Regions from separate parts of the Homo sapiens genome. Here region 2 is linked to region 1. Evidence: fine-mapped expression QTL. A gene starts in region 1. The other region holds a variant in brackets. All regions are shown on one strand. Distances are between the middles of the regions. Region 1 holds the start of CDK17 (cyclin dependent kinase 17). Region 2 overlaps ELK3 (ETS transcription factor ELK3).

What was found. PIP is the estimated chance that this variant, and not a neighbour inherited with it, causes the effect.
Region 2: its variant is fine-mapped to the expression of CDK17 in whole blood (INTERVAL, PIP 0.92).

The regions. Positions count from the first base shown.
Region 1 is chr12:96,397,388-96,411,163 of GRCh38, reverse strand. CDK17 (cyclin dependent kinase 17) reads left to right here and starts at 10,725. Exons shown (of 17, transcript NM_002595.5): 1 at 10,725-11,178. RefSeq lists enhancers at 3,421-3,470, 9,742-9,961 and silencers at 6,969-7,068, 10,382-10,711, 10,802-10,981, 11,162-11,321.
Region 2 is chr12:96,235,780-96,252,683 of GRCh38, reverse strand. It overlaps ELK3 (ETS transcription factor ELK3), which reads right to left. Exons shown (of 5, transcript NM_005230.4): 3 at 4,950-5,744. Among named protein-coding and RNA genes, the nearest start is that of ELK3, 50 kb to the right of the region's middle. RefSeq lists enhancers at 14,152-14,652, 16,694-16,904. The variant G/TG (reference allele first, on the strand shown) is at 8,679.

The DNA.
Region 1 (13,776 bases):
AAGAACACTAACGTTTACTCATTGCCTGTAAAGTGCCAATTATTGGTGGGCACTTTTATATTTGGTGTCATGTTGAATCCTCATGAAAGGCCCTATGAGATACAAACATTTTACATATGAAGGAACTGAAGCTCAGGAAGATTAACTATCTTTCTCAATATCTTACAATTAATGGTGGAGCCCAGATCTAAACCCAGGCTCAGGTTCCTTTCACTATTTTTTTTTTTTTTTTTTAGAGACAGAATCTCACTCTGCTGTCCAGGCTGGAGTGCAGTGACACAATCATAGCTCATGGTAATCTTGAACTCCTGAGCTCAAGTGATCCTCCCGCCTCAATGTCCTGAGTAGCTGGGACTACGGGTGCAAGCCACTGCATCAGGCTAATTTTTTTTCTTTTTTAGAGACCAGGTCTTGGCATGTTACCCAGGGTAGTCTGGAACTTCTGGCCTCAAGCGATCCTACCACCTTGGCCTCCCAAAGTGCTAGGATTACAGGCATGAACCACAACACCTGTCCCACTTTGAATTCTATATTCTGCTGCATCATGCTAAAATTTTTTAGAACATTTATGTGAAATAAAAAAGGCCTGAAATATTTTATTCCATCATGCCTAGCAGTTGATAGAAAGTAGTAAAGGAATAAAGCATGATGCACAGACAGGCACTGACTACCTTATCAGTGGGTTCATTTAAAATGATGTGAATGATCCCAACATGTAAAATAACTTTTTATTTTATTTTATCTTATTTTTTATTTTTTCATTACACACCACGATTCTTCAAAAATCTTTTTAAACAGATTACATTACTAAGTGTTTTTTCTTAACACTATAAGAAAATGATCTTGTAAACAACACAAGTGGTCTTTGGAAATGTCTTTGCATTTGCAGAAGGCATCAGCACTTCTGATGCCTTCCAATCAAACTAGAATTTAAGGATGAGTAATTGTTATGAGCTCAAGAAAACAATTTTAATTGTGATTTATCTAATGACTTTGAGTATCAGGGTGCCCAAAGAAATAAGATATCCTACCTAATGGCAATTTTCTCCCTGCCTAGAAGGAAAGCACCTTTAATTGCACAGATGATCTACAGTTCAGACTAGGAATATAAAAAGAGGCAAATTTACATTAAATACACACATGAGATGGAACAATATCTCAAACTTTTCAGATTATTTCCACATTGAGGAAGTAGAGGGAGAAGGGAACTGACATTTATTGCATATTACAGTCTGCTTTAACAGGATATCCTGGATTTACCAGGTCAATATTTTACATAGAGTTAAGTAGGTTTCAGGCACGCCTCACTCACTGTTGCCCACTGCTACACTCTTGCACTACAGAGATAAAATGTCAAAAAAAATATTTTGGCTGGGCGCGCAGTGGCTCACGCCTATAATTCCAGACTTTGGGAGGCCAAGGCAGGCAGATCACGAGGTCAAGAGATCGAGACCATCCTGGCCAACATGGTGAAACCCCCTCTCTACTAAAAATACAAAAATTAGCTGGGTGTGGTGGCACGTGCCTGTAATCCCAGCTAATTGGGAGGCTGAAGCAGGAGAATCACTTGAACCCCGGAGATGGAGGTTGTGGTGAGCCAAGATCATGCCACTATACTCCAGCCTGGCGACAGAGCAAGACTCCATCTCAAAAAAAAGAAAAAAGAAGTATTTTTAAAGTATACTTATAGCTTATATTAACCTCTTCTTTGACCCTGAGGCTAGAAACCAACTATGGGTTAAGCGATGTGACTTCTATATAGATATACTTACAGAAAGCCCACATTTTTAACAGTGTGTTTTGAAAAATTCAGGCTTGTACAGACAGGTCAGATAATACAGTGGTTTCAAATGGCCATTAAACAGCACAGTGTTTTGGATCCCATTCTCTTTCTGTTTTTAACCGAAAGATTAACATGCAATAAACTGCACATCTTTAAAGTGTCCAGTTTGATAAGTGTACACCCATAAAGCCATCACCACAATGATTTAAAAAAGAGAACACATTTGTCATCCTCCACAAGTGTCATGCGCCTTGGTAATCCTTCCCTTCTTCAGACACAGGCAACCACTGATCTGCTTTTTGTCACTATATTTTGCATTTTCTATAGTTTTATAACAATGTAACCATACAGTGTGTGCTCTTTATTTGGTCTGACTTCTTTCGCTCAGCGTAATTATTTTGGGATTCATCCATGTTGTTGGATGTATCAGTAATTCATTCCTTTTTATTGCTGAGTAGTATCCTACAGTATCAACTTGTTTATCCCTTCACTTGTCCCTTTTTTTGTTTTGCCCTCCTATACTTGTCAAAATTTATACTTTCTCTAATTTTCTTTTTTTCTCTTTTTTTTTTTTGAGACGGAGTCTCGCTTTGCCTCCCATGGTGGAGTGCAGTGGTGTGATCTCAGCTCACTGCAACCTCTGTCTCCCGGGTTCAAGCAATTCTCCTGCCTCAGCCTCCCAAAAAGCTGGGATTACAGGCGCCCACCACCATGCCAGGCTAATTTTTGTATTTTTAGTAGAGACAGGGTTTCACCATGTTGGCCAGGCTGGTTTCGAACTCCTGACCTCAAATGATCTGCCCATCTCAGCCTCCCAAAGTGCTGGGATTACAGGCATGAGCCACTACGCCCGGCCCTCTCTGATTTTCAATTTCTGATTATGCCCTTGGCATTTACCCATGTATAGTGGACACCAGTGGTTTCTGACCGTCGTGCATTCCACCCCACACCTGTTACTTCTGCTAGAAGCACCCTCCACTCCTTTGGACAACTGCGTCTTCCCCATTCCATGTAGTCTGGTGGGACCCTTCTGATTAGTATGATGCAGGCCAATCAGAGTCTTTCCTTGGAATTTTCTAAATGGACCTCCTTCCCCTTGGATTAGGAACTGTGAAGGTGTGATCTCAGAGCTGTCAGTGAACTTATAAAGAATGAGGTTGGCACATAGACAGAAGCCCAGATGAAAGACAATCTTCCTGAATCTGGCTAGTGATAAAGCCCACTCATCCCTGGCTTCCTGCATTTTAATTAAGTGGGTGCCCCGCATCCACCACCCTAGTTATGGTAAAAGCACCTGTTTCTTGTTTTGGGAGGACCGCCCTTCCCATACTCTCAGCACATGTGATTCAGCTGAGGCAGACTCCACCCTGTCTTTGGGGTTAAGCATATGTCCAGGCCCTAGCCAATCACTCATCTGCCTTGGCCACAGTGACAGTCAGTGATTTAAGCTGAGCTAAATAAAGCTAATATTTGTGCTACTAAAGATGTTACTCCCTTTTTCCTTTGGGACTTGAACCTAGAAGCTTAGAGCTATAAATATTACAGACATCTTTTGACCTAATGGGTGGAGAGCCAAGGCCACCAAAAGCAGAACTGAAAGGAGAGGAACCAGGTTCTGATGACATCGGGACAGCTGTTGGCTAAGATGACCTTAAAGTCTGCGCCATCCCTAGTCTTTTTTTTTTTTTCTTGAGACAGAGTCTTGCTCTGTCACCTGTGCTGGAGTACAGTGGCGTGATCTCAGCTCACTGCAACCTCCACCTCCCAGGTTCAAGCAATTCTCCTGTCTCAGCCTCCTGAGTAGCTGGGACTACTGGCGCATGCCACCATGCCCAGCTAATGTTTGTATTTTTAGTAGAGAAGGGGTTTCACCATATTGGTCAGGCTGGTCTCGAACTCCTGACCTCAGGTAATCCACCCACCTCGGCTTCCCAAGGTGCTGGGAATTACAGGCGTGAGCCACCACACCCGGCCCCTAGTCTTTTCAATCACACAACAACAAAATCCCCTTTCTGTATTGTTTGAGTTGTTATTCATGTCACTTACAACAGAAAAACTTGAGATACAATGCATTACATTCATTATCTTATTTAATCCTTACAACCTGGCAAGTAAACTGTTAACCCAATTTTACATATGGAGAAACTTTTAGTTAAGTAATTTAGCAAAATCTCATGGTGACAAAATTAGGACTCCCATCCAATCCAACTGATTGCAAAGCCCTATTACTATGCAATGTTCCTTCAGGGCTAGAACCCTGACCTGCTTAATTTATGCTTTTCTACTCTTTCTTTCTATTACATGAAGCTTAACACTAACAACATCTGCAGCTTTCTTATTGCTGAAATAAAACTTGTATAAGACTTAATTCTCCCTTTTCCCTGCTTCTTACCTTTTTTGTCTTCTTTCCCCTCTTCCTCGTTTTTTATTTTTCCATTTTTCCAATATCTATATTCCAAATATTTGCTCTAGTCTTCTTCACAGATCATATCAATTCTAGGATGGTCCTGGGAGTCATGTAGGCTAGGGCAAGGCAAAGTTAGTTTACTGAAATTTGCACTTCTGAACTACTAATACTAGAAGACTACAAATCAGTCCTATCAGCTTACCTAAAAGCATATCACTGGGCCAGATTTCAAAGATGACAAACCATCCCTCCCTTCTCCCATTAAAAGGATGAAAAGGTGCCGGGCACAGTGGCTCACACCTGTGATCCCAGCACTTTGGGAGGCCGAGGCGGGTGGATCACCTGAGGTCAGGAGTTCGAGACCAGCCTGACCAACATGGAGAAACCCCCGTCTCTACTAAAAATACAAAAATTAGCCGGGCATGGTGGTGGGCACCTGTAATCTCAGCTACTCTGGAGGCTGAGGCAGGAGAATCTCTTGAACCCGGAAGGTGGGGGTTGTAGTGAGCCAAGATCACGCCATTGCATTCCAGCCTGGGCAACAAAAGCAAAATTACATCTCAAAAAAAGGAAAAAAAAAAAGGATGAAAAGGCCAGGCGCGGTGGCTCACGCCTGTAATCCCAGCAGATTGGTTGGCCAAGGCGGGTGGATCACCTGAGGTCTGGAGTTTGAGACCAGCCTGACCAACATGAAGAAACCCCATCTCTACTAAAAATACAAAATTAGCTGAGCGTGGTGATGCATGCCTGTAATCCCAGCTACTTGAGAGGCTGAGGCAGGAGAACTGCTTGAACCTGGGAGGCAGAGGTTGTGGTGAGCCGAGATTGCACCATTGCACTCCAGCCTGGGCAACAAGAGTGAAACTCTGTCTCAAAAAAAAAAAAAAAAAAAAAAAAAAAAGGATGAAAAAGGCCAGGCGAGGGGGCTCACGCCAGTAATCCCAGCAATTTGGGATGCAGAGGTGGGCAGATCATTTGAGGTCAGAAGTTTGAGACCAGCCTGGCCAACATACTGAAATCCTGCCTCTACCAAAAATTAGCTGTGTGTGGTGGCAGTCACCTGCAATCCCAGCTATTTGGGAGGCTGATGCAGGAGAATCACTAGAACCCAGGTGGCGGAGCTTGAAGTGAGCCGAGATCACACCACTGCTCTCCAACCTGGGTGACAGAGGGAGACTCCGTCTCAAAAGAAACAAAAGATGAAAAGATGAAAAAAGATAGTGATAATTCCCACAAGCTCCTGGGGAAATGGCCAGTTGCCACATTCTTCTTCTTCTCAACCTGCTTAAGAAGGGAAAACCTATACTGCCCCAGTTCCCACTTTCCAACTTTTTTTTTTTTTAAGCAAGACATTTGTTAAAGCTTAAAGATGACTTCATCACACCTGTAATCCCAGCACTTTGGGAGGCCGAGGCAGGTGGATCACTAGAGGTCAGGAGTTCGAGACCAGCCTGGCCAACATGGTGAAACTCCGTCTCTATTAAAATACAAAAATTAGCCAGGCGTGGTGGCGGGCACCTGTAGTCCCAGCTACTCTTGAGGCTGAGGCAGGAGAATTGCTTGAACCTGGAAGGTGGAGGTTGCAGTGAGTCGAGATTGTGACACTGCACTCCAGCCTGGGTAACAGAGCGAGACTCCATCTCAAAATCTCAAAACAAAACAAAACAAAACAAAAACAAAAACAAAAAACAATGGCTTCATGTTATGCTTCATTTTTTTTTAAAAAGCTCAAATAAACTTTAAATGTATTGTATTTGATTAAGACCCACATCTGGTTTTTCTCAGAGGCAGAACATCAATCTAGTTAAGAGGTATTGATATTACATTTAAAAAAGAAATGAAGAAAAAACTAGTTAATCCCATCTTAATCTCATAATAGAGACGTGTATGCAGTCTTACTGGAAGCCTGGAAACTAACTCTCCCTAAGCATTTTGTCAGCAACTAGAGAAAACTTTCATTTCAAAATAAAATGTTTGAAAATTTTGTCCCCCTTAACTGCCAAGATTCAGTTTGGTTCCTGGATTCATTTCCCTTGTAAGGACACATGACATCACTCTGCTGAAAGCTTTTTATAACGCTCCCTGGACGAGACCAAATGTCTCAGATGTTATTCATCCTCTAGGGTTAAATCTGGTACACCAAATTTGAAATTTTACATGTAAATAGGGAAGAAATTTTCCCTCCCCAAATTTGTAACTTGTAAATCTATGGAGGTATTCTGATAATATCAAATAGATCTGCTCTGTAAAATCTCTACCATTAAGCTTTAAGTGACAGGGTACAACTGTATCATTATGCAATGGTATATAGCTGTTTTGCAGGTGTTGGGATGGTACAAAATATTAAAAATAAATGTTAAGGCCTGGCTAGATGTTTCATTTTTGAAGCAGGTTTTAAAAAGCCTTTGACAAAACTCCTTTCTTGCCTACAGCTTCATTTTTGCCAAATGTAAAATTATTTTGCTATTGGGGGAAAATTGTTGATTGCTGTCCTTAGCTTAATTTGCTTTATTCTTCTTGCAAAACAAGCAAACAAACACACAGACTTCCTATATGATTCAGCCTAGTAAAACAGGGAATGAACCCAGACAAAAAGTGTTTTTTCTATTTGGTCAGTAATCTAATTTCTTTGAGAATTTTTAAGGAATATGAAATAATTAGAAATAGTCCAGAAATTCAGACATATGGAAAATTGTTTTGTAAACAAAGCTATGTATTGATGTTGTATAGAGCAGTGATTCTCAAACTTTATTGTTCAGCAGAATCTTAGAAAATCTCTGTAAACAGTTTGCTGGGCCCCACACTAGAGTTTCTGATTCAGTTGGTCTGGAGCGGGAACTGAGAATTTGCATTTCTAAGAAATTCCCAGGTAACACTGCTGAGAACCACTGATGTAGAGCAATTGAAAACCAGCTTAAGTGTTTCTTGTTTGTATCTTACCTGAAAGTTTCATATTTGTTTCCCAGACAGTGTCATTTTCAGAATGTGAATCCCAGCAAAGATTTTCTGGACTTACCACATTTAACTCTCTTTGTCCAAAGTTCAATGACCTTCAAAATTTTCTCCCCTCAATATTTTTATATATGTCACATGATATAGCTATTCTATGGTGAAAACATTTTGGGATATACTTGTTTCACTGGAAAGAAGATTATTTTTCAATCTCAGAACTTCTAAGAGCCTTAAATACGTAAATGTATATTGTGAATTTCCAAAAGGGAGATAAAGTATGTGGCATTCCTCAAGTGGATTTGATCTTGGAATTCTTCCTCAATCTTTCTCCTCCACTAAGCACTATGGAATATCTATTAATGACAGTTAGGGAAATATTCTAAGTAATTTTATAATTTAACATAGTTTTACAAGGTAAAAAAAAAAGCCTATATTACAACCTACGGAAAAAACAACTAACATGCTCACAATATTACATATAATTTTTTTTTTTTTTTTTCAGACAGAGTCTTGCTCTGTCACCCAAGCTGGAGTGCAGTGGTGTGATCTCAGCTCACTACAACCTCCACTTCCTGGGTTCAAGCGATTCTCCTGCCTCAGCCTCCTGGGTAGCTAGGATTACAGGCTCCTGCCACCACGCCTGGGTAATTTTTGTATTTTTAGTAGAGATGGGGTTTTGTTATTTTGGCCAACCTGGTCTCGAACTCATGAGCTCAAGTGATCCACCTGCCTCGATCTCCCAAAGTGCTGGGATTACCGGTGTGAGCTACCGCGCCTGGCCAAATTTTAAATCGGTTTAGAAAAGTAATTAAATAGGCCATGGGGCTGGGTGCTGTGGCTCACCCAGCACTTTGGATCACTAGAGCTCATGAGTTCGAGACCAGCCTGGCCAACATGTCCAAACCCCGCCTCTACTAAAAATACAAAAATTAGCCGGGCGTGGTGATGGGCACCTGTAATCTCAGCTATTCAAGAGGCTGAGGCAGGAGAATTGCTTGAACCCAGGAGATGGAGATTGCAGTGAGTTGAGATGATGCCACTGCACTCCAGCCTGGGTGACAGAGCAAGACTCCCTCTAAAAATAAATAAATAAACAGATAAATAAATAGGCCAGGGGTGGTGGCTCCTGTTTGTAGTCTCAGCACTTTGGGAGGCCGAGGTTGGAGGATTGCTTGATGTCAGGAGTTAATACCAGCCTGGGCTGTCGGCATAGTGAGACTCCATCTCATTTAAATAAATAAATAAATAAATAAATATGAAAAGTAATGAAATAAATATTGTGCAATCTGTAATTTTTTTTTTCATTGAAAGAACAAATCCTCCAGGCACGGTGGCTCACGCCTGTAATCCCAGCATTTTGGGAGGCCGAGGAGGGTGAATCATCTGAGGTCAGGAGTTTGAGACCAGCCTGGCCAACAGGGTGAAACCCTGTCTGTACTAAAAATGCAAAAAATTAGCCGGGCGTGGTGGCGGATGCCTGTAATCCCAGCTACTTGGGAGGCTGAGGCAGGAGAATCGCTTGAACCTGGGAGGCGGATGTTGTAGTCAGCTGAGACCACGCAACTGCACTCCAGCCTGGGCAACAAGAGCAAAATTCTGTCTTAAAAAAAAAAAAGAAATAACAAACCAATCAATCAAATAATCACCTAAGTTTTCATTATGAATTCGTCTTTTTTTTTTCTTTTTGAGACGGTGTCTCACTCTGTCACCCAGGTTGGCGTGCAGTGGCAGAATCTCAGCTCACCGCAAACTCCGCCTCCCAGGCTTAATGGATCCTCCCACCTCAGCCTCCCAATTACGAATTCTTTGTTATGCTAATGAAAGATGTAGAAAGAGGAGAGGGTGCTTTGGATGAGACAGAATAATCTTTTTATTTCTCATGGAGTAATGTTAATCTAATGATATGAAGGTATAAGTATTAATGCTGAAACTCAGAATGCCATTTCATAGACTCCCTTTTTTGGTGATTTTTTGATATTTACTAAAGTACTAATTTAGATGAGGCAAGTATATGAAAATCCTTTCATATAAATAGGCCTTGTATAAATATCAGTGTTTCTCTTTAACTTAAAAAGAACTCTGAAAATGATGCTACATCTTGCTATATTATAAAGTTCCAAGTTTGACTTGGACAAATCTAAAAAGCCTCATTAACAGTGCTTTTAAACAAAGCGCACTTGTTCTAACGGAAAGCTTGTTATGTATATTTGCATTCTTGGTTGGTAAACAAGTGTTAAATACGCGTAGAGCATAATTGTTGCTAATTTACGGGTCCTGGTAATTTTAGAGGCATGGGAAAAGCCTGATTGACACGTACGATCGTTGGATATAACTGTAGATGCATTTAACTTTGCCAAACAAAATAAGAGAAAGATGTCAGCATGCAGCATTTTTAAGGGGGAAAGGATTCATCCCTAAATCCAAAAAGATAATTCCCCGAAGTTCTTAGCACATAATGTGATTTGAAACTTCAAAGCAGCTTCTACTTCCGGGTGTTAACATGGGAAAAAAAATTTATCTCACTTCACAGGACTTTTATGTGGGTTTTTTTTTCTTGTTTATGTTGTCTACATCCGGTCCCTACTCTCTTCTTTCAATCCTCTCATTATCTCCCTCTAGGGGTTTAAGTTTGTTTTAACTTTATGCTTTTATCCTTATTAGTGGAAAAAAGTGGGTCAGTATTACTTTAGTTTGTCTTCACTGCCACTCTGCTGTTCATTCCTGAACTAGCTTTTAGCCTCTGGGAAAGGAGAAAGTAAAAACAGTTGCAGAAACTGGGCCAACCTCTCGCGGCCCGCCTCCCCCAAGAAAACAAAACCTAACCCGTGCAACAGTAGTCCTTTCTGTTTTCATAGCACCTTGTATTTCTCCGCTCATAACGTTCAGATTTTTATGATAGTTATTGATCATCTTTCATCCCAGCTAGACTCTCCGTCCTTAGAGGACTCAGCATATTGCCGGGCACATGATAATATATACAAAACACTGTACTGTAGTTTAAATGAATAGATGCCGTGTGTGTGAGAGACTGCGGCACTAGTACCCACGTACCCACACACAACAAAGGAGAAAAGTTGCAGCCATCAACATCTTTCAGTGTGGGTCCTTTGACATGGACTCTCTAGAAAGTCAGTGGAGAACTGTGGCATGGACACCTTGTACAGTAATTACTTGTATAACTGAAGCACGAGTTTTGGTTTGGTAGCGGGAAGTTGAGGGGCAGGGGGATGTTGGAGGGGCTGAATTATTCACATAATTTCTCCCCCAGTCGCTGCGGACAGGCACTCATTCCGGTGGGGTCCCCTGGCCCCCTCCGCCGCTCCCCCGACGCCCGCATTTCGGAGCGGGCAGTTTCCCGGGGACACCCGCCCCGCCCTGCAGGCCCCGCCCCCGGCCGCCGGCCCCGCCCCCGCCTCCGCCGCCGCCGGCAGGGGTCGCGCTGCCCCCGGCGAGCCGCTCAGGCGGGGGTGGGGTAAGCTCCCGCGGCCGGTCGCTTTTCTCCGCCGCCGCTGGTTGGATCGTTTCAATAAAAGTGTTTTTTCTCTTGCACTCGCTCTCCTCCGGGGAACAGGCGGAGGCGTCAATCCGCAGCCGCCGAGTGTGAAAGCGACGCACACGCAAGGAGCGAACGCGGCCGCCCGCAGTCTCCTGAGCTCCCCGCGGGCCGCCGCAGAGCCGCGGAGAAGGAGCCAGCGCCCGGCCAGACAGTCTCAGCCCGCCGTCGGCGCCCGCCGCGCTCGCGCCCGGCTGCTCCGAGGGGATTAGTGGGCCGTCCGCGCGGCTCGTCGGCGCGGGAGCCATGTTGACCGAGGGACTTGGCAACGCGTGAGACACCCGCGGCCCCTCCCGAGGCTCCGGACCCGCGGCGAGAGCCGGAAGGCGGCTGTGGCGGCGGAGGCCTGCGCTCGGAAGCGCCTCACGTCTGCCGGCCGCTGAGACCCGGACTTGCATCCGGTCGCCGCGGGCGTCCGCGGAGCAGCTTCCCCCCGCGCCTCTCTTCGCCTCGCCTCGGGACCCGCGGTCCCCGCTCTTGCTGGTGAGTTGGCGGCTGGCGTCCGCGCCGCGCTTTCCCCTGGTGTCGGGTCGGCCGCGGGGCCGGGAGGCTGCGTGGGACAGAGGCGGGGGCGGGGGCTACTGGGGGCGCGGGTGGCTCAGGCCCGGTCGGGAAGTTGAGCGAGGAGGCGCGGCGCGGGGGGCTAGCGTGCGCCTGTCACCTCTCCGGTCCAGCGAGGACCTTGGGTCGCCCGGGGATTTCCGGGGCTCGGGTGGGGTGTGAGTGTCTGCGAGCTGCTTCCCAGGAGGCGCCGACAGATATAGACGCCGCCGCCTCCGGTGCTCGCTGCCGCTTTGGTCTGCGGGGGAGGCCGGTCTCCTCGCGAGGCGGAGGAGGGGAAAGAGGCAGAAAGTCCCCCGAGACACAAAGGTCCCCTCGGCGGGGGTGGAGCTGGAGGCGCAGGCGACGCTGCCCGGGAGGGGAAGGAAGGGGCGCGGGTCCGCGGGAGGTGGGCGAGGAGGCGGCGGTCGCGGCGCCTGCAGCTCCTTGGAGACGCTGGCGCTGTGCGCGGGTGGGGAGCGCGGAGGAGGAGGAGGAGCCCGCGCGTGGGAGCGGGTAGAGACAAAGATCAGGGCAGCCTCCTGCTGGCGGGTCACACCCCGGAGTGTTGGTCAAGAGCGGAGGTAGAGGGAAGGTGGGAAACCCAGCAAACCGATGGGGAGGGGAAAATGGGGGGAGGAGGGTGCCTAGTGCTGTCTCCGTCGCAGTTGCTTTTCTCAGCATTTTTGTGCCCGATGCTATGCCCGATGCTTTTGCTCCCCAACTCAGCTGGATAGCTCCAGATTCCCTCCCTCCTGTCACCCCCACACTGCCACATTGACTCTCCTGTGGTTTTTCCCTCGTTCTCCCCCTACTTTTCACCCACTCCTTTTCGGGTAAGCAGTATTTTGCTTTCAGCTTGGGGAACATTTGTTAATGACAGGATGTCTGAGCTTGTTCTGACCCTGAACTGCCTTGAACTTCTCTCTCTTCCTCCCACCCTTTCCTTTTCTGGGATCTATAATGTCACATGGCCGTTAACAATTAGCTTTTCTTTTGCAAAAGTGGCAAAAAGCGTTTAGCTGAAATCTGTGGCTCTCGCCTCCTTTACATGAATATGTCCACCAAAGACACCTCGTTGGTCATGTTCTATCACCTCTTCGTCAAATTGACATCAGGTCCTAACAGGTCACTTTCAAGATACAGAAGAGGCAAATTTTGTTTTGAGACTTGGCCATTCCTAGGGTCAGCAAAGTGTATTCCTGGCAGCCAGACCTTCAGTCACTTATCAGGAAATGCTTGACCTAAAGACAGACAATTCTTTCCCCAAACTTTGCTGTTTCTTTTTTGAGTCTTTGTTGAAAGATTTCTTTTAAAAGGCGTTCGTGTGAGAAGATCACAGCAACAAATCTGGCTTGTTCTGTTTTAGACTTACTTTCTTAACTCTTGGGCAGAAGAAAATGAATGAGATTTGAAGACCTTTGATACCTTGGGTAGACAAAGCTTGCCTTGAAACTAGAAATAAGACGAAACTAGATTTTAAGGGGAAAAAATTTGCTAGTGGTAATATAATTGGTTTTGTTTCATTTTTTTATGAGTCTGAGGAGTTGACATTAAACGTTGGGATGTTGCTTTGTTAATGAAGTCATTTCAATTTTTGCAACTCTTAACATCTGCATGCTTCCATAAACAGTGGGTTGGAACAAAAGAAAATGTGACTAAGGGATATTCCTTAAATTCTTTTTTATGTTATGAGAGAGAATATTGGAATATAAAGAATGTTACTTTATCTGGTAAACCATCTCATAGGCCAGAAGCACTAACAGTTTGAATGGTTGGCTTAAAAAAAAACGGGAGTCTTTGAATTTAAGCTTATGTAAAATTACTATGCAAATATAGGTTATTATTTATTTTTACAGTGAAAATAAAACACTATTGAAGTATAAATGGAAAGAAAATAAAAGCAAAGCCTGTTTAATATAGAGACATTAATGTTGATATCACTGTACGAACAGTCATAGCTTGCTGCTCACTGCCGTTAAAGGGTTGACATACAAACATTGTGGAAGAGATTTCAGTTTGAGGGCTAGTGTCTGAATTATGGACTCCTTACCCTACTCCACCACTTAAAACATTTTAGAGACTTTTGTGAAATTAACAGGTCATATAATTAATAATTGTTGTTTTATGTACATTTATTGAAAGGCCATATTGAGGCTCCATTGATTTTTTTTCCTGCATATTTATCAGTATCGAATTAGAAAATTGAACCTTCAGTGTTACTAGATGGAAATCTACCAAAAAGTAGCAAGGTTTACGAATGGTGGGATTTATTGGTGATTAAACATTTTTTTCCTGTATTTTATAAGTTTCACATTACATTTACAATGAGAAAAAAATGTAAATGTAGAATTAAAGTCTTGTTAATATCGTAATTTGCCTATTGCTGTACTAAAAGAAGCTTCTATAAAATGTATCATTCTCATCCTTAGATTCAGGCCAGAAAGTAACTTTCAGTGTTAGGTATTTGAAATAATGCAGCCTGTCATATGTACTCTGGTTACCAGAATGAAAAAACAAAAAGAGATACATACATAGTAA
Region 2 (16,904 bases), 160 kb after region 1:
GCAATTTGGTTGCATCTCCAGGCTCCACTTCTAATGCTAGTTCTCTTGCTATTTCTACCACATCTGCAGTTCCCTCCTCCAATGAAGTCTTGAACCCTTCAAAGTGATCCATGAGGGCTGGAATCAGTTTCTTCCAAACTCCTGTTAATGTTGATATTTTGACCTCCTCCCATGAATCATGAATATTCTTAATAGCATCTAGGATGGTGACTCCTTTCCAGAAGGTTTTCAATTGACTTTGCCCAGATCCATCAGAGGAATCACTATCTATGGCAGCTGTAGCTTTATGAAATGTATTTATTAAGTAATAAGACTTGAAAGTCAAAATTACTCCTTGACTTCTGGGTTGTAGAATGGATGTTGTATTTGCAGGCATGAAAAATATTAATCTTCTTGTATATCTCCATGAGAGCTCTTGGGTAACCAGATGCACTGTAATGAGCAGTAATATTTTGAAAGGAATCTTTTTTCTGAGTAGTAGGTCTCACCTGGGCTTAAACTATTCCATAAACTGTGAAAACAGATGTGCTGTCGTCCAGACTTTGTTGTTCCATTTACAGAGCACAGGCAGAGTGTATTTAGTAGCACTGGCTTCAACTTAAAGTCACAAGCTGTACTAACAAGACTCAGCCTGTCCTTTGAAGCTCTGAAGCCAGGCATGGACTTCTCTTCTCCAGCTATGAAAGTCCTAGATGGCATCTTCTTCCAGTAGAAGGCCGTTTCACCTACAGTGAAGCTGTTTGACGTAGCCACCTTCATCAATGAGCGTAGCTAGATCTTCTGGACAGCTTACTGCAGCTTCTCCATTAGCACTCGCTGCTTCACCTTGCACTTTTATGTTATGGAGATGGCTTTTTTCTTTAAACCTCATGAACCAACCTCTGCTAGCTTCACACTTTTCTTCTGCAGCTTCTTCGCCTCTCTCAGCATTCAAAGAATTGAAGAGTTAGGGCCTTGCTCTGGGTTAGCCTGAAAGGAATGTTGTGGCTGGTTTGATCTTCTATCCAGACCACTAAAACTTTCTCCATATCAACAATCAGGATGTCCCACTTTCTTATCATTCATGTTTTCACTGACGTAGCACTTTCATTTCCTTCAGGAACTCTTCCTTTACATTTACATACTTAACTGGTATAAGAGCCCCCTAGCTTTAGGCCTGTCTCGGTTTTGGACATGCCTTCACCGTCATCATTCTAGCTTTGGATTTAAAATGAGAGATGCGCAGCTCTTCCTTTCTCTTGAACACTTTATAGGCCACTATAGGGTTATCAATTGGCCTAATTTCAAAATTGTTGTGTTTCAGGGAATAGGGAGACCCAAGGAGAGGGAGACACAGGAGAGCAGTTGGGACACACACAACACTGATCAAGTTTGACACAGGAGAGCAGTTGGGACACACACAACACTGATCAAGTTTGCTGTCTTATACAGGTGTGGTTCATGGTGCCCCAAAACAATGACAATAGTAGTATCAAAGCTCGCTGATCTCAGAGCACTATAACAGACATAATAGTAAGGAAAAAGTTGGAAATGTTTGAGAATTACCAAAATGTGACATTGAAACACGGAGTGAGTGTGTGCTGTTGGAAGAACAGACTGGCGCTGACAAGACTTGCTCAGCGCCAGGTTGCCACAAACCTTCGATTTGTAAAAACCACCAATTAATTGTGAAACGTAATAAAGCAAAGTACAGTAAAATGAGGGATGCCTGTATGAGGTGTGATAAGGTAACCACGTGACACAGGCCATGCCAAGGCTCCCTTACTTCTCCCCTTCTTCCTGCCATGATTCTAGCTGGAAATAACCAACCTTCGGAATTTGTACCTTCAGGGTATCGGGTTATTACAGCACACACAGCTTTCACCTCTTCCAAAGCCCACCACTAAGCAAAGCTGACAGCCCACAGATTATCAAATGTTTATGTGCACACAGCATCACACTGCACACAGCACACCCCCCACACACAGAGAAAAGGAGAGTTTCTGTGACAAAGTGCTCAGGTAAGAGGAAAACCACTGAAGCCTCACTGCTGCCTGTGGAACACCCTGAACCCCACAGTTGTCCTTCACTCCTGAGGCCGAAAGGAATTCCACAGAATGCCTGGCTGTTGAGAGCCACGCTGTTTCTGGCTGTCACCTGGAAGACAAACTACTGAGCTGGTGCTGGTGGGTGAGTTTCTGGGGCACCCCCTGAAGCAGCTCCCAGGGGAGGGAATCTGAGAGTCCAAATCTGACACTGACATACCCTAATCCTAAACCACCCCTGGCTTCAAGATATCCTATCTGATCTCAGGGAATCCGCCTGGGTGAAACCGGCTGCAAGAACTCAACTCTGAATAAGTACCACACCCCTGACTACCACCCGGGCCCCTCTGGTGTCTCCCTCATTGCCCCTTCTCTCCCTCCCTGTTGGCCACCCATGGCCATGCCAGGAGCAGAGCCCACACTCTGGGAATGTGAGGGAAGTTCAAAGTGGGGTCTGAGTCCCGAGGCTCTACCATCTCCCAGTGTAGCTGGTGACCCCCTTAGTTTTGCGTGGTTTAGAGGACTGCCTGGTGCCCCTCCTCCTCCTTTGACCCGAAGGCCCTCTCTGAGCCAGGTCCCTTTACTTCCACTCTCCTGCCCTGGGTCCAGATGCTGCCTGTTGCCTCCCTCCCCTCAGGACCATTTCTGGGCTTCCTGGCACTAAATCATCACAGCCCCACCCTCACAGCTTGGCTGAGGACCAGGCACCCTCACTGCCTAAGGCACAGGTCCTCTTGTAAAGATCCTGGCTTTCCTACGCCTTCCCACCTAGTTTCAGGCCATGCTGGTGGCTTCTGGCTCCTGGTCGTGCCCTCTGCATCCATTTGTTGGGCATCCACCCTTGATCCTTCTCTCACGCCCTCAGCCCCACCGATGGGAGCCACCACTCCATCCACATTATCCACAGGGCTGGCTGAGCTGACTTCCTCTGAGACAGGGCTGGCATCTGCCTCACTCTGTTCTGAGAAGGTGATCCAGGCTCCCAGGGAACACAGACACCTAAATCAGAGTCAGCCCTGGCCTGGCTTCGGACCTTTCTCACCCTGACAGTTGTAAACACACAGGAGGCCAGGGGAGGAGATGCTCAGATCATCTACCCTGGCCCTGCCTCTCAAGATACTCCCCTGAGCTACATCAGGAGCTGCTGTTTCTGAGCCATTTGCTCAGCAGCCCTTGGTCACTGGACAGCCTTGCTTAACTGGAAGATGCCTGATTTAAGAGCACACGTGCTCACTCTGACCTATATCCTGATCCCCTGGCCCTCCCCCTCCGCAGTGGCGCGCGTCACCACCAGCTCACAGGCTTGAGCTGTCATGAAATCCTGGGCAGAATCCAGTCCAGAGAAAGCGTGGAGAGGACAGTGGCCCAGAGCTGCTTTCAGGTGCTCCATGGACGGCCATCGTGATCAGGGACACTGCCTTCTCGCAGCGGGAATGCATTTCATTTGAGAGCATGGATTCTGGAGGCAGACACTGGATCCAAAGCCACCTCTACCACCTATTGGCTGTGGGACCCTGGACGAACTACTTTACCTCTGTGCCTCATTTATCTCAGCTGGGAAACAGGATGATAATAATAGCACAGGCTCAGCATCCCAAATCCAAAAATTCCCAAATCCCAAATCCTCCAGAATCTGAAACTTTCTGAGTCCTGACATGACACTCCAAGGAAATGCTCATTGCAACATTTTGGATTTCAGATTTTCAGATGTGGGATATTCAACTGGCAAGTATCATGCAAATATTCCAAAATCTGAAAACATCTGAACTCTGAAATGCTTCTGGTCACAAGCATTTTGGAAACAGGATGCTCAACCTGTATCCACGTGACAGGGCTGCTGTAAGTGTGGATACAGGCAATGCATGTAAAGCATCTGGAGCAGTGCCTGGCACACGTGGGGAGCCCGTCATATGCTGCCGCGGCTGCTGCTAATGACAACAGGGACAACTACGATGAGATTACAGAGGCAGGGGACGGGTGCAGCTCCACGGTTAACAATGCTACCAGGTGTCCCCAGCTCACAAAGCCTGTCCATGGTCCCATTTTCCACACATGGAACCTGGCCCAGAGAGCAACCGCCCACAGTCCCACTCCTAGGAAGCAGGGTAGCCAGGAACTGAATGCAGGTCTGTGAACCTAAAACGAATACTCTTTTAACCTCTGCCACTAAAATTGCATCCAATTTTCAAGGGGAAGGAGAAATATGGTTTCCCAGCACCTACTACGCCTTTGCACTGCAATTGTCAGCTGGACAAGAAAGAGCATCTGAATATCTGATTTAAAGGAAAAGGCTGCTTTCTCTTTGGGACTAATAACAACGAAGGCTTTTTTGGCTCTGCAAGTTTGCTGTCCTCTCGCCAGTGCTGTGGACTGGGGCTTTCTCAGAGTAGTGCTGCTTTCAGCGAAGCAGCTGTTTGGGGTGGCCCCTTTGTTTCTTATTACCTACGCTATGACCACAGCTCCACACTGACATGCGATGGCGGCATCAGTTGACATCTATTTTCTTGTTAACAGAACACAAGTGGCTCCTTATTAAGCGCCCCCAGAGAAGATTCTGCCATAAAAATTTCATAAAGCCCAAGCGCCTCCCGAAATGTAAACTGGCCCGCTCAACTTTCCCTTGGAAATCGCTGGTGAGATCTGCTTTGTCGGCCAGTGTGCGTGTTCCACCTATGGTCACTTTAGGCCGCTAAAAGCAAGAAACCAATCAAGCATCCCACTAGAGTCGACAAACCAAACCCTGTCTCATGTGCACCCCTTGGTCTGAGGATGGAAAAGCAGCTTCCCTTCACATTTACACAGTGACCTCGGTACGAGTCATAGGACAACGTTTTGAGGGACAGAAGGAAGTCTCTTTAGTTGCTCTTCCTTTTTTGCTAAGCCACTGAAGCTGGCTGTGGCTTAGATGACAGGAATGACTCTTACCTGTGCGGTGAAGAAGGCTGGGGTGAGGGATCCCGAGGGGAGGGCTGGGCTGTTGAGGGCGATGGAGCCGATGTCGGTGCCGGAGAGCACCAGCGGGGGCGCTGAGATTTCCAAGCCTTTGGGTTTTTTGGCCTTTGGGGGAAGAGATGGAGACTTGGTCTTGGAGCCCGATGACAGGTTCAAGGGCTCCAGGGAATCGGAGTCATGGCAGGCGGCCTCCAGGAAGAGGCTTCTGTGTTCAGAAGGGAGGGGTGAGTTGGGGGACAGGGACGGGGACCGAGATGAGAAGGGTGAGGCGGATGAAATACTGGCAGCGTTTGGCAACATTAAAGAGGAGATCTTGGCCGAGACGGACGAGGCCAGGAAGGCGGACGCCGCCGCAGCCTCTGACGTGGAAGGCAGGGACACCACCGGCCTGGTGACGTGCTTGTCGGTTTTATTGGTCACAAACCTGATCACAGTCCTGACTTCTTCCACGGGGGGGCTGTCTTCGGGCGGCTCCTCCAGCTTCTCCGTCTTGATGGCCTTGAAGGCGTCTGGTGGGTTCTGCAGGGAATTAATGGTGAAGGACGAGTACAGGCCTGAGTGGATGTATTCGTTGCGGCTCGTGCTTCTGAGGGCGGCCAGGCCGTGTTTGTGGGCCTCGCGGCCCTCCGGAGACGCCTTGCAGTCGCTGTCCTGCAGCAGAAGGCTCTCCCGGCTGATCTCCACCGCGTGAGGATCCATCTTCAGGATCTCCGGGAAAGAGACAAACTTGTACACAAACTTCTGCCCGATCACCTTCTTGATGATGTTCTGCAAATACAAAAGTAGACGTTGAAAATCTGAGTGCACCCGAGAAACCATGTAAGAGCTCATGATAATGGTAAATGTCGCTGGCAGAAGCACCAAAATGTTCCTGATTTACATTCTTGGCTAAGGAAAAGTGGAAGGAGGAATGAAGTTGGAAGTAGAATTAGATGTGCATTCCAGTTCTGCCATTACTAGATCTTTGTGATCTTTGGCAAATTAAGTGCCACTTTGAGTTTCCTCGTCTGTAAAGTAAGGAAGATGATGATGATGATGATGATTTCTTAGACAGGGTCTCACTCTGTCGCACAGGCTGGAGTGCAGTGGCACGAACATGGCTCACTGCAGCCTCAACCTCCTGGACTCAAGCAATCCTCCTGCCTCCACCTCCTGAGTGGCTGGGACTACAGGTACATGCCACCACACCCTGCTAATTTTTACATTTTTATTTTTTGTGGAGACAGCATCTCACTTGGTTGCTCAGGCTGGTCTCAAACTCCTGGACTCAAGCAATCCCCCAACCTTGGCCGAGTGAGGATTATTCTATGTAATAACATAGTAACAGCTGCCATTTATGAAGCCTTTACTATGTGGATGGGATTATTCATATCTTATCTCATACAATCTGAACAGCAATCCTAAAAGGAAGGTGTTGTGACTCCTATTTTAAAAATTTGGAAAATAAGCTTAGAGCACTTCCCTAACTCACATGACCACCTGCTAGGAAGTGAAGTGGTAGAGGCAGCATGTCCTGAACCATAACACAGTATTGTCTTACCTACCTCTGCGAGTCAGAAGAATTCAATGAAATAATAATGAGAAAGCATTCTGTAAGCTGGAAAGCATTATAAAATGCAAGTTATCATCATCAAACACTACAACGTTTTCTTAACTCAGTCATTTTTTTCCTTTTTAATTTTTATTTTTTTTGCCAAGAAAGCCACTGGAAGGAAAACGAATTGTCTACTTTGGATATCTGTGACATTCATTGACAGTATTTTTAGTTGCTAGCGTCTACTTCTGGCTCTTCAGTTTATGGCTCCAGTCCTCAAACATTAGGCTATAAATGAAAAGCAATAATCATTGCAAAAGTTTTTGCAACCCTTTGGGAGAAGGGACTTTATATTAAAGGCTATGCTGTTCTTGAGGTTTATTAAATGGATACTTTAATTCCCTGCCGAACCCACTGGGTTCTATATTTACCTACCAAATGCTTGCGTGTGCCTTGCCCTGTGGATGCATCTTGGCGTCCAAGGGGCTCAGAGAGACAAAGATGGTCTCTCTCAAGCACAAAAACCCAGCACCATCCTATGGGAAAAGGACTCTGTTTCCTTAGAAACTATTCCACCTAAAACCAGGGTATGAGTGAGGATTAAAAAAAGATCATTTCAAGTAGAAGAGCTTTAGAAGCAGCTCTGATTGAGTGCCTCTCTTCTGTACCAGGGGTTGTACATAAGGCACCTCATTAGATCCCCACATTAGCCCTGATGGAGGTGGAGGATGTCATCCTTCTGACACAAACAAGATCCCAGGGATGGAGAGTCATTTGCCCAAGAACCACCAAGATCGACAGATTCTAAAGCGTAAGCTTTTTCACATCCCCACACAAATTTAGGGGGAGAGAAATCAAAGATCCCCCAATAGACATGAAATTCAACTGAATGTTGATGTGCCTTTTGAAATCATAGTGTGGTTCTAAAAACATGTGTTTGCCTGCCATCCTTTACATTATGACATTCTGATTTGCCTTTTCCCTCCTTAAATGATGGCAGCGAAGGGCACATTTAAGGGTCCCATTCAGCACAGGAGATCTCATACAGAGTCATGGAGAAACCTCACTGAGCACCAGCATACAGGCCGACGCCCAGGGCACCTTAGATTAGAGTCAAGGCCAAACAACAGTTCCAGTGGCCGCGGCCACCTTGCTGCATCCTGGAGCTCCCACCTGCAACTTAACCCGCGGGGTCTCATTTACGCCAGCGACCTCACACTCACGCTGCTACTCGAAGCTGAACAGCCCTTAAAAACCTTTAGAGAAATTTGGGAAACTCAGATGTTTTCCACCTGGACTTTGTTAGCAGCGTCTCTGCCGAGTGCCCTGGGTCAGAACATGCCCAGGAAAATCAGCTCCCAGCAGGAAATAAATTAAATAAGGGTGTCATTGGACCCACCTGACCCAGGGTCAGTTCCCATTAAAAAGAAAGTGTGCTGGCCTGGTGTGTTAATGCTTCCTTCGCTAAAATTTTAAGTTATTTTTAGTTTTAGCTCATAATATTTTTCTCCCTGGGGAAAAACTTTATTTTTTTCCCTCAGCGAGTTTGAACACTCATCTAAACTGAGTGAAGTTTTTAGAGCCTAAATAATTACACAAAAGACAAACTTCTATAAATGTTTTATTTAGAGCCAAAATAAAAACACAGAAGAAAAAGGATCTGAATCATTTATTCTAACAAGTCTTAAATAACTGTTTCTTCTTTCCCAAAAAAAAAAAAAAAAAATTCTAATTTTCTTATAGGTTTGGAACATCATGTCTAAGTTGGGATTACATTCATGAACACATCAAGAAATAACCAAGGGCTGTGATAAAAATGACAGAAAATGTCTCTCCTGCTCAAAAAATGGTTGGGAACTGAAAGGCAGCCTCAGACAGATCATATGGCCTTGCTGTGTTAAAAAGAACATGAGGAACAACCCACCTGTCCACCAACCAGCAAAAGGATAAATGAAATGTGGGGTGTCCTTACAATGGAATATTATCCAGCTGTAGTAAAGAATGAAGCTCTGCACCAAGGCCTAGAATTCATTATTTGAGGAATAATGAATTACTAGACTATAGTAAGAACAATAAGGAATATTGTTTGGAATAGTAAGGAACAAACATAACATAATGGGCCTCAATTTCATTAAACAGAATCATAGATTTTTTTTTTTTTTTTTTTT[G/TG]AGATGGAGTCTTGCTCTGTCGTCCAGGCTGGAATGTAGTGGCGTGATCTCGGCTCACTGCAACCTCTGCCTCCTAGGTTCAAGCGATTCTTCTGCCCCAGCCTCCCAAGCAGCTGGAATTACAGGCACCCACCATCATGCCCAGCTAATTTTTTTTTTTTTTGAGATGGAGTCTCGCTCTGTTGCCCAGGCTAGAGTGCAGTGGTGTGATCTCGGCTCACTGCAAGCTCCGCCTCCCTGATTCACGCCATTCTCCTGCCTCAGCCTCTGAGTAGCTGGGACTACAGGCGCCCGCCACCATGCCTGGCTAATTTTTTTTAGTAGAGATGGGGTTTCACCGTGTAAGTCAGGATGGTCTCGATCTCCTGACCTCGTGATCTGCCTTGCCTCGGCCTCCCAAAGTGCTGGGATTACAGGCGTGAGCCACCACGCCCTGCCTAATTTTTATAGAGACGGGGTTTCACCATGTTGGCCAGGCTGGTCTTGAACTCCTGACCTCAGGTGATCTGCCCGCCTCAGCCTCCCAAAGTGCTGGGATTATAGGCATGAGCCATAGAATAGAATATTCTATTCTATGATTCACTGCAAAGTGAAAGCAGCCAGATATTACATGATAAAGGTCACATATGATTCCATTTATATGAAATGTCCAGAATCATGATATCTATACAAAAAACCAGAAAGTAGAGCATGGTTACCTAGGGCTGAGAGGGGTGGAAGGAAGGAGGTAATGAAAATGTTCTAAAGTGGGTCACGGTGATGGGTGCAGAACTCTATACTCAGAGCCACTGAACTGTATATGGTAAATGGGTGAATTGTATGGTATGTGAATTTTATCTTAATGAAGCTGGTTTTTAAAGAAAAGAACATATAAGAATCTTAAGTATTTTACGTGTTTAAGTGGAAGACAGTGGGAACTTTCTATAGCTAGAAGCAACTGTCATAACCCTACTCAGAATGTAAAAAGGGAGACACTGGGAAGGGCCCTTCAGTAGCTGCTGCCTCTGCTGGGGGAGCAGAGAGGACACCAAGAGTTTTCTGGGGAAAGGTTACGCAGTGACGGGGATGGAGACAATTTACTAGCTGGCCAAAAGGAGGAAGTGACAGCCATTGGAAAGAACCGAGGCAGGTCATGCTTCTCTAGAGACCAATGGGAAAGACGGATTCGATCTGGCTACCTGGAAACCTGCCAGGGTCGAAGGCTAAAGAGTGGAACTGGGAGGGAAGAGGGCAGGGTCGGGTACAGTAAGTGGGTCAGAGCAGTGCAGCCCAGTGACTCAGCACCGGGGACATCTGCTAGACGAGGGGAGCTGGTAAGGAAAGCCCCCCACAGCGGTGCCCACGGCTGGAGGATTAGGAACAACCTGGGCTCAGAGGACGTGTGTCCCTGCAGCTGCACTGACAGCCCCTTCTTCCTTATCTTCCAGGGCTGCCCCCAGAAGCAGCGCCATGTATGTTTGAAGATCTCTCTGTGGCTTCCAGAGGGAAGTTTCCTTCCAAGAGTTTGCTGAGAAGACTCAGTGTCAGGAATAATACAAGCTAGTATGTGCTGAGCACGTATTATTTGTCAGGCTATCTTCTAAGAACCTGTCAACCATCAACTCACTCAATCCTCTTAGAGAATGGAATGATTATTATCCCCATTTTGGAGATAAGCAAGCTGAGGCTCGGAAAGTATAAATTATACACTGTTGGAAGCTTGTACCTGGAGAGAACAGATGGTACCCAGGCAATCTGACTCCTGAGGTCTTGGCTACTATGAAGGGTGACACAAGATTCAGGCCAACTTAGGCAGCCCGGGACACAAGCACACTTGGGTAAGGGCTCTTATTATGGTAAGTGATGAGGATATTTAGAAAAAGTCGGGTTTCCACCCCCTTCAATCCCAGACTCACAAGTATTTGTTGCTCACAGTTGCCTGGTAACCTGAGCGATGCTGGTCTGTGTCGGGTGGAGCTGAGTGCATCTCCAGCGTGGTTTTAGAGTGTTACACACATCCGCTTCCCTCTTACATGGGTGGGACCAGTCTCTTTGTAATTTCCCATTAAATACGTATTTGCAAAAGGGCTGCCTCTTTGCCCGGCAGGCATTCCATGTGAGGTTACGGGCAGCAAGGATGGGACCAATTTTAGTGAGAGGAAAAAGCAACATCCCCTTCAAACAGAGCCCAGTGGCAGTTCCAGGCAAAAGAGGAGGACCAGATACCAAAATTAATCCCTCACCCCGTCCAAGTTGCCATTTTGAGAATGCAGTAGTAGCCTAAAGGGCAAGTCGTCCCTTTGGGACAGGATTCCGGGCAGACCTGTGCAGAAGAACCCTTCCCAACTCACCAGCCACCTCTGGGGACCAAGGCATCCCATGACAGCAGCCCATGACAGGATCTCGTGACAGGATCCCTCAATTATTTCACTTTAACTGCATAGAAAATGCCAAGAGAGCAGGTCATATTTCCATTTCCATTTCAGTGCTGTCTGTTACCCTGACAGGTTACAGGCATACCTACCTATAAGAAAAGGTATGGCTGTCCACAGTGTGTTTACATATGTACACACACACACACACACACACACACACACACAAACGCTCCACTGTGCCCTTTGAAGAGGAAGGAGTCTGTGTAAATAATCTCAAATAGTAGATAGATGAGAAATATTTCGATAAGTTTTGTAATTTAAAAAAAGCATATGCAGTGCTAGGTAATGAAAAGATGCATATGGAATTAGATTTACCTTCTTGATGATGTTATTAGGATTATATTTAAATGAGTTAATTAAATGTTTGTTGAATGAATTACCAACTATAAGGAGAACTGACCCAGGCATAAAGCCACAGGCATGAAAGACACAATTTTCCACGGCTCATTCTTAGGCTGGTTAAAGCTCCCTGTGGGTGTATCCCATACATATACCTGCTTGTTCTTCTTTGCTGGCATTTTTAAACTGAAAACTCCCAGGCAGATATTAGAGGCCATATGCAAACTCCACATGCTACATACAACCTCACACCTCCCGTGAGAGCTTAATGAGCCATAATTTCACCCATCCATTTACGTGGCAAATATTTGCTGCATGTGTCTGTCCACCCACTCTGGTCTGGCACCCCAATTTTGATCCAAGGTTATGCATCTGGAGTTCACGTGCTTAGTCTTGTTATCTGATCTTCCGTTTTCCTCCCCGCGAGGAGCCAGGCCTGTGGCGAGTTCCTCGTCATTCTGGTCTGGCCCCTGGATCCTCTGCCATTTCAGGGCACCCTGGAAACACAGCGCTCCTGCCCTCTGATTCTGCAACTCTCCTACCTCGTTCTCAAAACTGAGAATGTCAGCAGCTCAGTAAGCAAGCAGGATCGGTTGTGCTGAAGACTTTTCCTAACAAACAGGCCCTTCTTAACCCCTGCACTGGGTAAGGGGGACAGAGCAGGGGACCTTTCCAATAAATACCCACTTGACCCTATCACAAAGACTGCTGCAGGGATTAAAAGGAGAGGCTCCAGAGTCACTGCCTGAGTTCAATGCCTCAGCTTCTCATGTATAAAATGGGGACTGATCCATCTGCCTCATGGGACTGAATGAGACATCCATATACAGCTTCTATCAGAACGCCCGATGCATCCACGCATGACAAGCCCCATAACATATACTAGCTATTAGTATTATCATCATTTTTACACTCCCATTTAAGCAAAAACAGAACAAAACATAAATATCACCCTGTGTCAGCCCTAATGACAATTTAATAGACAAAATTAACCCTCACAGAAGGCTGCGCATATTCTGCTAGCTTTGTCCAAAGTTCTGGGTAACATGATCAGTTGCACAGCAGGCAGAATTACATCTGGTTTACATATCTCAACTGAGCAGGGAAACATGATGTTTTTATTTAGTTAGGTTCAGACAAGAAATAGATACAAGGCTTATATTATATTGTGCCTAACACGGCCAGCACTTGACATCCACTGTGACGAAAACCTTACACAATCCAATTAATTTGGGGGTTGTGGGGAGGTTCTAGGAGGGGGACACACGGAGCCGCAGATGTGAATAACTGCTAGATCCAAGTGCTCCGCTTAGATGCTGGCCGCAGCCTACAGGCGAGACGCCACATGTCAGGCCCCGAAAGGTGGTGCAGACACTAACCAGGCACCCAGCTCATCTCAACTGCTCCCGGCGGCTTCTCAGAGCAGAAACCATGCTGCCCAGACTGGGAGGGAGAAGAGCAGCCTTGCAGCGTCTGCTTGGGCTCAGGCCTCTGCTCAGGGTTCCTGGGAGAGGCCAACGGGAAGCTGCTGGCCCTGCGCACTTGTCAGCAAGACCCGAGGCAGGAACCTGTTCAGGTGCTGAGCAGACACACGAGACAATGCATTTATTTGGGGCACACTCATTTTATCGTGGTAGATACCCTACGTGAAAGGAACCAGTACAGAGAAAGGACAAGGAAAGAAGCCAGCATTTATGAGGGCCAGCTGCATGCTGAGCACACACAGCTGCCTTGCAGGATGGGCACTGTTATCCCATTGCAGAGATGGAGAAGCCAAGGTCCCCCTGGACAGTGAGGTTATATCCAACTGTCCACCACCTGGGGGTAGGTTAAATATTGGGAGAGCCATACAATGGAATACCACGTAGCTACTTCAGGGGACACGACATTGCTAACACTTCCCCATACCTTTAAATATACATTAGGTGGGGAAAAAAAACAGTATGAATAATTCCATTATTTTAAAAATGTTCTATTGCATATATATTTATATGTTTTCTACTGTATATATGCATATATGTGTAAATAAAAGGAGGTAGAAAAATTAATCTTAAAAGAGGTATACTAAAATTTAACAGTGATTTTTCATATTTCTTTTTGCTTATGTGTATTTTCACATTAAAGAATGTATATTTGATATGTATTACTTGTCAAATTAAGACTTTTTAAGGGAAAGAAATAGGAACTAAAAAGCTGACTAGCCCAAGGTCACACAGCTTGTAACTGGTGGAGCCGAAGTTTGAACCCAATTGTATCTAGTGCCAAGACCTAAGCCATTTCTGTTCCACTACCACACCCTCTTCCAGAAAGCAGCTGCATTTGGAAGCAGAGGCTGCTACTAAAGTAAATCCGACAGGGCCAAGGGGTCTCTGCATTCCAGAGTAATAGTGGGGTTAACTGCAGAGTGCCTGGGAAAACCAGCTCTGTGCTGAGAAAGCATGGGCCTTGCTTGAGAACAGTTATTTCTAGCTCTTCGGGCGGAAGAGACCAATCTTCCGTAAGGTCCATTCATTACCTAGAAATAGAACTGCCTCTGCCAATCCACAGGGTAGAGAAGGTGCCTGCTTTGGAGGGACACCCTAACATGAGGCACGGGGGACCCAGCACTCCCAGTGCAGCAGACTGGACATGAGCAGCCAAACTATAAGTGGCATGCCATCCAAGGGACGAGGGTGACAGGAAAACAACAGGAAGCTCGTGTCCACCATATACAGCCCGGTGATGGCACCCACTGCCAAGCTCCCCCGGCTGTCTCCAGGCCCGTGCCCAGCAGCAGCTCACACAAGGGCACAGGCCAGGAGCCTTGACGGGCCAGAAGTCATGTGGACCCAGTGCTGGGGTGAACAGATCTGGGTTTGAATTCCAGCCTCTCTGCTTACTATGACCTTGGGAAAGTTACTGAACATCTACACGGGGCTCAGTTTGCTCACCCCTAAAATGGGAATAAAAATACCCCATAGGCTAATTTTTTCTAAAGACTCAACGCAGTCAGTGCCTCACTCACACAGGTCCTTACAACATGACCCTCACCCAGTGAATCTTGCTTAGCATGCAATAATCTAATCGTACACACTGCTCATTATATCACACTTTTCATTTTATTCTGCCTTCCAGGAAAATTTCTTGGGTGGGCACCTTACTTTACAGTTTACAGAAGGCTCACACAAAATCTCATGTTAGCCTCACAACGCTTTGATACCCACTTCACAGATGTGAGACCCGAGGCTCCCAGCTGAGTTCACAACACCCACAAGTAGCAGAGGAGTATCTCCAGGCCGCGGCTTCCTGGCCAACACATTTTCTTCAACTCCTGCTTTTGGGTTCCCTTCCAGACCACAGTCTGACTCACTCCTTCCTGACATGAAACCCGAAGTGTCCTTTCTCCAAAGTTAGAACAAGTAGTTACTGTATCTCTCCGACAAGCAAACATTCTTTCAGCAAACATTGTTTTTGTTTTTTAGAGATGGGGTCTTGCTGGCATTGCCCAGGCTGGAATGCAGTGGCTATTCACAGGCACGACTGTTACACACGGCAGCCTGGAGCTCCTGGGCTCAAGCGGTCCTCTTGCCTCAGCCTCCCAAGTAGCTGGGACTATAGGTTCAAGCCACCACACCTGGCTTTCAGTGAACACTGAATACACACTCTCCTATGGGTGGCCCCATGCCAGGCTCTGAGGAATGGAGAAGGAGTGAAGCCAGCTTCTGTCCTTGAAGTGCCCCTCAGTGGCTTGGATGCAGTGTGACATCCCCTGCCTCTGCTCTGTCTCTGCCATTGAAGCAGAGGGGACAGTGAGCAGTCAGCTGGCCATAAGAGACTCTGCTACAAATGTCTGGGGGGCAGGCTCACCTCACACCCACCCCCACTAAAGAGCATCTTATGATCCTGGACTCACGGGCTCAAACGATCCTCTCACCTCGGCCTCCCAAAGTAGTGGGATGACAAGCGTGAGCCGCCACACCCAGCTATTTAAGAGCATCTTATGAAAGGGCTCCTCTGACCCATAAACCTGAGCTGCTTCTCACCAAGGCAATCTTCCCCCACCCACCGCTGCAGTGAGTTTAATGTCCCTGCCAAATTCATGTCCACCAAGGACCTTAGAATGTGATCTGATTTGGAAGCAGGGTTCTTACAGATGTAATTGGTTAAAGATGTCGAGACAGAATCATCCTGGATTTGAGGTAGGCACTGAAATCAATGGCTTCTGTCCTCATGAAGACACAGAAAGACACACACAGGGAAGGTGGTCATGGGACGTGGAGGCAGAGACTGGAGTGAGGCAGCTGCAAGTCAAGGAACACCAAGGGTGGCTGGAGCCCACAAGAAGCCAGAAGAGGAAGGGGGGATTTTTCCCTAGGGCCTTCAGAGGGAGCGGGGCCCTGCAGATACCTGGATTACACACTTCTGTCTTCCAAAACCTTCAGAGAATACATTTCTATTGTTTTGAGCCACCAAGTTTGGGGTCATTTGTTACAGCAGCCCTGGGAAACTAATACACCCCTTTCTTAAAATTGTCTCTGTTCAGCGAGGCAGAGGAGGCACAGCCTGGGGCCGCCACTGGGGTGCAACTAGCCCTTCCCACTGCGATGGTACAGGCACCGGGTAAGGTGGAGCCTAGGCTGTCCCTTGTGCAAAGCCGAACTTTGGAGTGTGCACACACACACACGTACACACCCACTCACACCCATTCCAGACTTCTAAGAATGACGTGCTGCCAACAAAGGCTGGAACTCTGTCTCTGAACAGGCCAACTCTGTCGGCTCCCGGGAGAGGTTTTCTTGTGGTTTGGGTTGAGGTTTCTTTGCTTTCTGGCACCGGTAAACTGCAGCGTGAACTATCTCACCAAATTTGGCCAGCCTGAAGTTGAGGCGCTCTTCATCCCTGCTGCCTGAGTACACGTGGCACCCTGAGGGTGCTAGTGAGAAGTGCTGGCTTGCTGGCCTGGCAGGACACCCCAACCCGGGAGGATTCGACTGGACGTTCGCAGCATTTTTCTCCCTGCCTTCTTGGCTGGGCGCTGCTGCTGGCTGGACCTGGAGTCCTGTCTCCCTCCTGGCTCTCCTTAAACACTCAAGGGTACTTTTATTCAAAGGCCTTTTAAGTGTTAATAACATAGAACATAAAGCTGCTCAGGCGGGGTGGTGGCTTACACCTGTAATCCCAGCAGTTTGGGAGGCCAAGGCAGGTGGTTCAACTGAGGTCAGAAGTTCGAGACCAGCCTGGCCAACATGGTGAAACCCCATCTCTACTAAAAATACAAAAATTAGCCGGGTATGGTGGCACACCTATAGTCCCAGCTACTCAGGAGGCTAAGGCAGGAGAATCGCTCGAACCCAGGAGGTAGAGGTTGCAGTGAACTAAAATCTCACCACTGCATCAGCCTGGGTGACAGAGCAAGACTCCATCTAAAAATAATTAATAATAAATAAATAAAAATAAATAAAACTGCTCCCCAGTGCAAGTCTTTCCCTTTCCC